Regions from separate parts of the Homo sapiens genome. Here region 1 is linked to region 2. Evidence: fine-mapped expression QTL. Tissue or cell type: whole blood. Region 2 holds a variant in brackets; the other region holds the start of a gene. All regions are shown on one strand. Distances are between the middles of the regions.

What was found. PIP is the estimated chance that this variant, and not a neighbour inherited with it, causes the effect.
Region 1: TRIM4 starts here. The variant in region 2 is fine-mapped to the expression of TRIM4 in whole blood (TOPMed, PIP above 0.99).

Annotation. Positions count from the first base shown.
Region 1 is chr7:99,916,701-99,921,851 of GRCh38, reverse strand. TRIM4 (tripartite motif containing 4) reads left to right here and starts at 2,322. Exons shown (of 6, transcript NM_033091.3): 1 at 2,322-2,843. The coding sequence starts at 2,451. LOC101927610 (a long non-coding RNA gene) reads right to left here and starts at 2,249. Exons shown (of 2, transcript XR_001745296.3): 1 at 2,025-2,249; 2 at 1-668. RefSeq lists enhancers at 1,951-2,060, 2,301-2,380, 2,411-2,460 and a silencer at 2,591-2,750.
Region 2 is chr7:99,887,822-99,892,972 of GRCh38, reverse strand. TRIM4 (tripartite motif containing 4) reads left to right here. Exons shown (of 6, transcript NM_033091.3): 6 at 227-2,570. The coding sequence ends at 810. Among named protein-coding and RNA genes, the nearest start is that of OR2AE1, 13 kb to the right of the region's middle. RefSeq lists an enhancer at 4,936-5,151. The variant G/A (reference allele first, on the strand shown) is at 2,053.

The DNA of each region.
Region 1 (5,151 bases), 29 kb before region 2:
TCTGCTAGGCCTTTAGTGCTCTTGAGTGCATAGCAGTGGTTCGGTGGTATCAGTCTAGTCAGAAATTGGGCTAGGTTTACAGTTTGTTGTTGTGGTTATCCTCAGTGCACAACAGACTTCAAATTTCTCTAGAGATAGCTTATGTGTAGGGTGTGGACTTTATTTTGAAAGTGTGTTTTAAAGAGGTCTGTATGGATGTCAACTCGATGCAGAGTGGACAGTGGTAATTTTGTAATATATCAACTTTGCTAAGCTAAACTATGTTTCCCAGAATTTCCTTTCCTTTTGTTTCTGGTTAGAATAGCCCAACAGAGACATGGTTGTGTAAGTCTTGAAGGGGAGAACTGAAGCATCCCTCCAGTTTTATACTTGAAACGGTGGTGCAGGGACACTAGGTGCTACTGCGGCTCATCTACTTTGTCACCAATCAGCTGGTTCACCTTGTTGGGATGGGGCAGAAGCTTTTCCCTGAGTCTTCCTTCACCTTTTTTGATTCCTGAGCTGTGTGTGTGTCTAGTCCTGTGGCAAAAAGTGTCAGCTCCTCTAGCAAGGATACTCATATCTTTAAAGTTGGAGACAGTGAAAGAATGACCAGCTCGTGTCTTAGGTTCCAACTCATTTTTGCTCTTCCCTACTTTATGTTCATCTTCCCTTCTTAACTGCTTGCCCTGCGAACATAAAGAAACATAGTGATTCCACTTCTCTGAATGAACCTTGGCTGGTATACAGACTTATAGACATTTTGTGATGGAGAAAAATTGTTAATTAGGGAGCCTCACTTAGTAAAGAAGGAAGGTCATCTCTGGTATGGCAGGAATAAAGACATAAGGATTTTAAGGGATTTACCTGAAAAGATTTAAATGACTACTGTAAGGGGAATAAATACTTTGCAGGAATGCTGAAACTTCTCATTCAATACTTAGGTAAACATATAGACACACAGATGCCATAAACACTCATGGTAAACATCAGTAACTGTTAAGAGCATTCCTTCCTGCTTGGTCCCTATTAAAGAACCAGATCCCTTCTCCATAGAGTATTCCAATTTGCAAAGAAAATCCATTCATTAGTTGTCCAATTTAAATGTTTTAGAAATATTCAGTGGAACTTTCATCAATAACCCCCAAACAGATACCTCAAGAACCCCTTTTTCTAATCATTTAATCATACTACTTACTGAGAAAAATTATTATAGGAAAGGCAGTATTTGATATTGGGACATAAAAAGAATGAAAAATCTGTTAAATAAGCAAAAGCCCATTAGCCTGAGGCTGTCTTGGTACTTGAGTTCCCATATAACAAAATACAACCTGACTTAGTATGTAAACGAACTGAAGCCTAACTTACTTTATTTTTTATAACAGCTGGGTTTCAGCCAATCACGGCCGAGCTTCAGCAAATAACAGACAGCCAACTGATCAGACCATGCCCCAATAAGGCAAATGCCTCATCATATCATTGTCAAATAAGGCAGACACCTAGATGTTAGCTAATGAGGTGATTTCTCTACTTTGCTTCCTATAAAAGCTAGCAGGTCATACTGCTGGACAGAGCTCTCTGAACCTCTTTTGGTTCTGAGTGCTGCCCAATTCATGAACTGTTCTTTGTGCAAATAGCTTCTATTAAATTTGTCAGTCCAGAGTTTTTTTTGTTTTAAACAAATATTCACAAGAAAAGGAAGAAAGTGGGAAGAATAAAAAGCAAAGCACCTCAGAAACACAAGATCGAAAATCCACTTAAGGGATATAGATAATTCCCTGAAACAGGTGAGCATATTATTTGTTGAAAGCCTCCATGGATGTTCTTTGGGATAGCAAAATGGTTGCTACTTTTCAAATTGGATACCAAAAAGGCAATGTATCTGCATCTCAGAATCCAAATCATCCCCACGTTAGCCAAACTCCAGGCCTACCAACACAGATCCTTCAAGTCTTCCTGGCCTTCCAGGCCCCTAGGCTGCAGCTCGCCCAGAACTCCTGGGACTCTAAAACTTAAATCGGTCTAACCAGCAGGCGAACACAGACCTGAACCCTCAAACTTGGAAAGAAAGATCATAGGCACCTCCCCGGTTGGCTCCCCCAGGGACCACAACGTCCGGCTCTAACGCCTTGCCCAAGTCCTCTGTAGCTTTCCACAGGCATTTCTGGGTCTCTATAGCTGTTTGGAGGAGCCACTCACCGGTCCCGTCCTGCCCCGCGCCTAGGCCTGAACCAACCCCCTCGCGGTTCCGGCGCGGATACCCAGCAGCTTCCGGTCTTGCGCGCTCAGGCCGGGCAACGTCCGTGCGTTCTTTTTGGGTCCTGAACCCCGGAAGAGAAACTGCGTTGTACCCTTTTACGTGAGGCGGTGACGGCGGTTCGGAAGTCGTCTGGCCTCCCCGCGGCCGCTCGCAGCTTGCTGGCCTCTCCCGCGCCTCACGTCGGACTCCGTCTCCGCGGCAGGGAAGCAGCATGGAAGCTGAGGACATCCAGGAGGAGTTGACCTGCCCCATCTGCCTGGACTATTTCCAGGACCCGGTGTCCATCGAGTGCGGCCACAACTTCTGCCGCGGCTGCCTGCACCGCAACTGGGCGCCGGGCGGCGGCCCGTTCCCCTGCCCCGAATGTCGGCACCCATCGGCGCCCGCCGCGCTGCGACCCAACTGGGCCCTGGCCAGGCTGACTGAGAAGACGCAGCGCCGGCGCCTGGGCCCCGTGCCCCCGGGCCTGTGCGGCCGCCACTGGGAGCCGCTGCGGCTCTTCTGCGAGGACGACCAGCGGCCAGTGTGCCTGGTGTGCAGGGAGTCCCAGGAGCACCAGACTCACGCCATGGCACCCATCGACGAGGCCTTCGAGAGCTACCGGGTGAGCTGGCCGTCGCGGTGACTATGACGGGGCTGTCAGTGTTGCCCGATAAAGTTTACTTAATGCTCCTAAAAGAGCCACGAAGTGGCTGTCATTCCTACTGGAAGCATGAAAAGCCCCTGAAACTCAAAGAAGTTAAGCAAAACACGAATTTCAGAGCTAGGGTTAAAACTGGAATGAGAGGAGGGGAGGTGCAAACCTCAGCAATCATTGTGCAGAATTTTCAATAAACTGGCCCTTGGGGAGCTCATAATAAAGAAAAACATACTGAGAGGGTGTGTGCCGCTGCTGTCCAATAGAAACCACATATGTAATTTAAAATCTTTCTGGTAAGATAAGGAAACGAGGTGACGTTAATTGTAATAATATATTTTATTTAATCTGATTACCCCAAATATTCAAAGCTGAGATGAAAATTATCAATGAGATTTTTTTTTTTTTTCTGAGATGGAGTCTCACTTTATTGCCCAGGCTGGAGCACAGTGGCGTGATCTTGGCTCACTGCAACCTCCTCCTCCGGGGTTCAAGCAGTTCTCCTGCCTCAGCCTCCCGAGTAGCTGGGATTACAGGCACACGCCACCACACCCGGTTAATTTTTGTTTTTTAGTATAGAGGGGTTTCACCATCTTGGCCAGGCTGGTCTCGAACTGCTGACCTCAAGTGATCTGCCCCGCTTGGCCTCCCATAGTGCTGGGATTAAGGTGTGAGTCACCACGCCCGGCCTCAATGAGATATTTTATACTCCTTTTTCATAATAGGTCTGAAATTGGTGTGTATTTTACATTTACAACACATAGCAGTTTGGAATATCCACGTTTCAGGTGCTTGTATGGCTAAATGGATACTGTATTGGACAGTGCCTGTCTGTATCTGTAAATGTCATAGACAGCTGATGATTTGGGAAAAGCCTAGCTTGTAATGATGAGGCTGGGTTTTGTTACTAGCTTCCTTCATCAGTTGGGAAAATCCTGTAACATTTGAATTTGGGGATTATCTGTCCTATCTCATGGGTTAAGAAGCTCCGGTTGAATAAATCACTTTACCTTACTCTGCTTCAGCCATACTGGCTTTCTTGCTTTTGTTTCAAGTCTGTTCTCTTTCTCTACCCACATCTATCCTTTAGATCCTTTTAGCTTTTAGCTTGAAGACCTTCCCTGATCATCCTTTCCAGAGTAGCCCCACCCCCTCCCATTACTGATGGTGTAACTCCAGTGGTCTCCAGCAGAATTGATATGCAGTAAGTACATGAACACATGAATTTATTTATTTATTTTATTATTATTGTTTTTGAGATGGAGTTTCGCTCTTGTTGCCCAGGCTGGAATGCAGTGGTGAGATCTCAACTCACTGCAACCTCCACCTCCCGGGTTCAAGTGATTCTCCTGCCTCAGCTTACCGAGTAGCTGGGATTACAGGCACCTGCCAGCATGCCCAGCTAATTTTGTATTTTTAGTGAAGACAGGGTTTCACTATGTTGGTCAGGCTGGTCTCGAACTCCTGACCTCAGGTGATCCACCCACCTTGGCCTCCCAAAGTGCTGGGATTACAGGCGTGAGCAAGCTTTCCTGGCCAAACACATGAATTTAATGACACAGTGAAAATGTTTGGAAACTGTAAAATACTGTACAGTTGTACCAGCTGACTATGAACAGGAAACAGACACAAAGCTGGACTAGAAAGTGTATGTTCATTCCTTCACTCAGTAACGTTTATTGATGCTTACTATTTGCCAAACATTGTTTTAGAATCTGGACATAAGTGGATGAGAAAGACATGGGCTTTGTCTTGTAAGGAACTTAAGCGTGTACAACATTAATTTCAGTGTGTGTGAGAGTAGCTGAAGTATTTACCAAGTGTACAGAAGGTCTGAGGTCGGAGTGATCACTGAGGAGTGAGGAAAGGCTCCGTTGAGGAGTTAAATGTGTTAGCTCTTCAAGGGTGAGTAGAGGTAGGAAAGAAGGTATTTCAGGCCAAAGGAACAGCATATTCCAAATGTGGTGGAGTGGGATAGCATGTGGTGTGTGAGAGGACTGGAGGTTGCTCAGTACTTCTGGAGCATGGAGCATGGGAAGGAGGATGGTGGGCCATGAGCTTGAAGAAAAAGGCAGGGCCTTATCATGAAGGATCTTGTTTGCCATAGTAAAAAGATTGAACTTTCTCTTTCAGGCAGTGGGGAGTTATAAAAGGGTTTTAAGGCAGGGAATGATATGATCGTTTTTTTTGTTTTAGACAGGTAACTTTGACATCCACGTGGATGAATGGAAGAGAAGACTAATTAGGCTGCTCTTGTACCATTTTAAGCAGGAGG
Region 2 (5,151 bases):
CTGGTCTAGGGCTTAGTCTTTTAGAGCAGAAGGGAAATGAGGACTTCAGGTTGCTAAAGGCCATGCTGTGGCCTGCTAGGCCTGGCTGAGGATCAGTTGGGCAGCAGTGGAGTCATGAGTGTTTGTTAGGAGGAGAAAGATGAAACTGATGCTGGAAAAGATGGGCATTTCTGGGGAAGGGTTGATGATAAGCTGCTGCACTACTTAGCTCTCATTTTCTCCACAGTGGCTGTAAACCTAGCTGAAGACACAGCTCATCCCAAACTCGTCTTCTCCCAGGAAGGGAGATACGTGAAAAATACAGCATCAGCCAGTTCTTGGCCAGTGTTTTCTTCAGCATGGAACTACTTTGCTGGATGGAGGAATCCTCAGAAGACTGCTTTTGTAGAGAGATTTCAGCACTTACCCTGTGTTCTGGGAAAAAACGTTTTCACCTCAGGGAAACATTACTGGGAAGTTGAGAGTAGAGATAGTCTGGAGGTTGCTGTTGGGGTGTGTCGGGAGGACGTCATGGGAATTACTGATCGTTCAAAAATGTCCCCAGATGTGGGCATCTGGGCGATTTATTGGAGTGCTGCTGGCTATTGGCCCTTGATAGGCTTCCCTGGAACTCCCACCCAGCAAGAGCCAGCTCTCCACCGAGTGGGGGTTTACCTGGATCGTGGGACTGGGAATGTCTCCTTCTACAGCGCTGTGGACGGAGTGCACCTGCACACCTTTTCTTGTTCTTCTGTCTCACGCCTCCGGCCATTTTTTTGGTTGAGTCCATTAGCATCTTTAGTCATTCCACCAGTGACTGATAGGAAATGAGGCTTTTCTTCCCCTGACCAAAACTCCTTCCCTGTAGTCCAGCTGAGGGACACACATCCCTGGGCCCTCTTCTGCCCTTCATGTCTCTATCCTGGATGGTCCATCTTCTGGGTCTCCCTAACGGTACCGTTTGGTATCTGCCCTTTGTGTGCTTCACAAGAGGCAGTCCCATGGGAGGTGGGTCTGGCCAATGGAGATGGGACAGGAAATTTTCCAAGACGCTTTTGGGAAATCTTTTTGTAGCTTTTAAAGAGATGTGCGGGGAAGACATATGGATGTTAGCAGCCATATTGGAACTGAGAACACAGGAATGGTGGAAAGGTAGAAGAAACAGAGTTTTTGTTGCCGTTGTGAAATTGTTGAAATTTCCTTCATGCCAAGCTTCTTGTTATATGAGATAATTACGCCCTTATTGTATAAGACAATTTTAGTTGTATTTGGTTACTTGCAGCCTGAAGTACCGTAACTGCACTAAAGGGACGTAGTGTGAACATCCCGCAGTATAGGCTTAAGTCACTTTTGTGAAATTTGACAAAGGCATAGAATCTTTTTCTATCCAGTCAGGCATTGCCTATTCTTTCCAGTAACTACTGATTCCCCCACTTTTCTGTCTTAGAAAATTGTGGGAATCCCCCCTCACTCTGCCTATGTTGCACTCTCTCTCTTCCCAACCATAACTCTGCCCTCAGCTATTAACTGTGCTGTGTATTTATCAAGTTGGTATGTTGTATGTACAGTGTTATTCATGTCATCATGAGAATGTTGAACGCTTGTTAAATATCTTTTGCTAGCCTCTTCATATGCTGTTGCATATGACTCTCATCACAACTCAGTGAGATGGAAAGTCAAATCCTATTTGTACAAATGAGAAAACTGAACTCTTTAGAGTAACTAGCTCAGTATTGGCCAGCTGGTAAATGGCAGTGTTGGGATTAAAATCCAGTTCTTATCTACTCTCCCTTTATTCAGAAGCATTTATTGGATGTTGATCTTTGTTTCAGGTTTTGATTTTGTTACTTTTTTATACTGTGTATATTTTCCTCAGTCTACCCTTCTGCTCTAGATTGTCTGGACTCAGGAGATTGTGGCAGTTACTGGATAGTTATTTTTAAGATAATGATTGCTTTTCTCTGTTTATATAAGTCATGTGTACTTATTGTAGAAAGTTTGTAAGATGCAAAAAGTATAAAAATTAAAGTTATGCACTACTAACATTTCAATATATTTTCTCCCAGATTTTCA[G/A]TAAAGACTTTCAGGCAGTGATTTAACGAGGATTTTATTTTAACTTATATTTTAGTTTAAGGGGAACACGTGCAGGTTTGTTCTATAGATCAATTACATGTCACAGGGGTTTGGTGTACATATTATTTCATTACCCAGGTAATAAGCATAGTACCCAATAGATACTTTTTTGATACCCCACCCTCCTCCACCCTCTACCCTCAAGTAGTCCCTGGTGTCTGTTGTTCCCTTTTTTGTGTCCATGGGTACTCAATGTTTAGCTCTCCCTTATACGTGAGAACATGTGATGTTTGGTTTTCTGTTCATGTGTTGGTTTGCTTAGGGTAATGGCCTCCAGCTCCATCCATGTTGCTGCAAAGACATGATCTCATTCTTTTTTTATGGCTGCATAGTATTCCATGGTGTATATGTACTATGTTTTCTTTATCCAGTCTACTGTTGATGGGCATTTAGGTTGATTCCATGTCTTTGCTATTGTGAATAGTGCTGCAATGAATATATACATGCATATGTCTCTATGGTTGAATGATGTCTTTGGGTATTGGGCATATACCGAATAATGGGATTGCTGGGTTGAATGGTGGTAGTGAGGATTCTTACACAACTTACAGCATCTTCCCTAACTCCTCCTCCCCTCCTCCCCTTCTTATACATCAGCCATCTTGGCTTGTCTTCCTATTCAGCCTGAGCAGCCCCCTCATTCAACAGTTTCTACTGAGTTCTCAACTTCCCAGGATATTTGCTGTTATAGGTTGAATTATGTTCCCCAAAAACATATGTTGAAGAGCTACCTGTGAAAATGACCTTATTTGGAAATAGGATATTTGCAGATGTAAACAAGATAAGGTCATTTGGGTGGGCTCTAACCCAATATGACTGGTGTCCTTATAAAAAGAAGGAAACTTATGCATATGTTCACACACTCATGCCCACACACACACAGAAAAATGCCAGATGGAAACAACGTGAAAGAGGCTCTGGAAGATGGAGGCAGAGATTGGATTGGAGTTATGCTGTCACAAGCCAAGGAACCTGGGGCTACCAGAAGCTGGGGGAAGCCAGGAAGAATCTTCCCCTAGAAGCTTTGAAGGGAGCATGGCCCCATCAACACTTTGGTTTCTGATTTCTAACTGCCAAAACTGAGGTTAGACAGTAAATTTCCATTGTTTTAAGCCACCCAGTTTGTTATGGCCACCTTAGGAAATGATGACTACACTTGCCCTTCAGGACGTCCTTCAGTGCCTGTCTTACTAATAGCTAATCCTTTGGAAACTCATCAGTACCTTCCCTCCTCTCTTCCTTCTGGCTATTGAAAGGTTGATTGATTCTGCTATAAATCCTTGCTCTCTGCCTTCAAGTGGGCCCTTTGAGCTGCATGGTAAACTTTTTTTATCACTTGACTTGTTTTAACGTCTTTGGTGGCAATGATTCCAAACTTTTCCTTTTAAGCCTTCATGAGTCCCCCTTCATACGATTGCAAAGAACTTGCATCTTCAACAGAGAAAAAATTCTTTTCCCCTACCCTTCTTATTCTTCACAATTCTTTGTCTCTGTGCTTGAGTCTTGATATTGACCCCTCTGGTCTCATCAGGTATGGGATGGGACCTAGGTGTTCATTTTTGTTTAAAAAGCCAACCAAGTCCCTCTCCCTCTCCCTGTCCCTCTCCCTCTCCCTCTCCCCACGGTCTCCCTCTCCCCACGTTCTCCCTCTCCCTCTCTTTCCACGGTCTCCCTCTGATGCCGAGCCGAAGCTGGACTGTACTGCTGCCATCTCGGCTCACTGCAACCTCCCTGCCTGATTCTCCTGCCTCAGCCTGCCGAGTGCCTGCGATTGCAGGCGCGCGCCGCCACGCCTGATTGGTTTTCGTATTTTTTTGGTGGAGACGGGGTTTCGCTGTGTTGGCCGGGCTGGTCTCCAGCTCCTAACCGCGAGTGATCTGCCAGCCTTGGCCTCCGGAGGTGCCAGGATTGCAGACGGGTCTGGTTCACTCAGTGCTCAATGGTGCCCAGGCTGGAGTGCAGTGGCGTGATCTCGGCTCGCTACAACCTCCACCTCCCAGCTGCCTGCCTTGGCCTCCCAAAGTGCCCAGAGTGCAGCCTCTGCCCGGCCGCCACCCTGTCTAGGAAGTGAGGAGCGTCTCTGCCTGGCCGCCCATCGTCTGGGATGTGAGGAGCCCCTCTGCCTGGCTGCCCAGTCTGGAAAGTGAGGAGCGCCTCTTCCCGGCCACCATCCCATCTAGGAAGCGAGGAGCGTCTCTGTCCAGCCGCCCATCGTCTGAGATGTGGGGAGCGCCTTTGCCCCGCCACCCCGTCTGGGATGTGAGGAGCGCCTCTGCCCAGCCACGACCCCGTCTGGGAGGTGAGGAGCGTCTCTGCCCGGCCGCCCCATCTGAGAAGGGAGGAGACCCTCCGCCCAGCAGCCGCCCCGTCTGAGAAGTGAGGAGCCCCTCCGCCCGGCAGCCACCCCGTCTGGGAAGTGAGGAGCTTCTCCGCCCGGCAGCCGACCCGTCCGGGAGGGAGGTGGGGGGGTCAGCCCCCCGCCCAGCCAGCCGCCCCGTCCGGGAGGGAGGTAGGGGGGTCAGCCCCCCGCCCGGCCAGCCGCCCCGTCCGGGAGGGAGGTGGGGGGGTCAGCCCCCCGCCCGGCCAGCCGCCTCGTCCGGGAGGTGAGGGGCGCCTCTGCCCGGCCGCCCCTACTGGGAAGTGAGGAGCCCCTCTGCCCGGCCAGCCGCCCCATCCGGGAGGGAGGTGGGGGGTCAGCCCCCTGCCCAGCCAGTCGCCCCGTCCGGGAGGGAGGTGGGGGGGTCAGCCCCCCGCCCGGCCAGCCGCCTTGTCCGGGAGGTGAGGGGCGCCTCTGCCCGGCCGCCCCTACTGGGAAGTGAGGAGCCCCTCTGCCCGGCCAGCCACCCCGTCCGGGAGGGAGGTGGGGGGGTCAGCCCCCCGCCCGGCCAGCCGCCCGGTCCGGGAGGGAGGTGGGGGGTTCAGCCCCCCACCCGGCCAGCCGCCCTGTCCGGGAGGTGAGGGGCGCCTCTGCCCGGCCGCCCCTACTGGGAAGTGAGGAGCCCCTCTGCCCAGCCACCACCCCGTCTGGGAGGTGTGCCC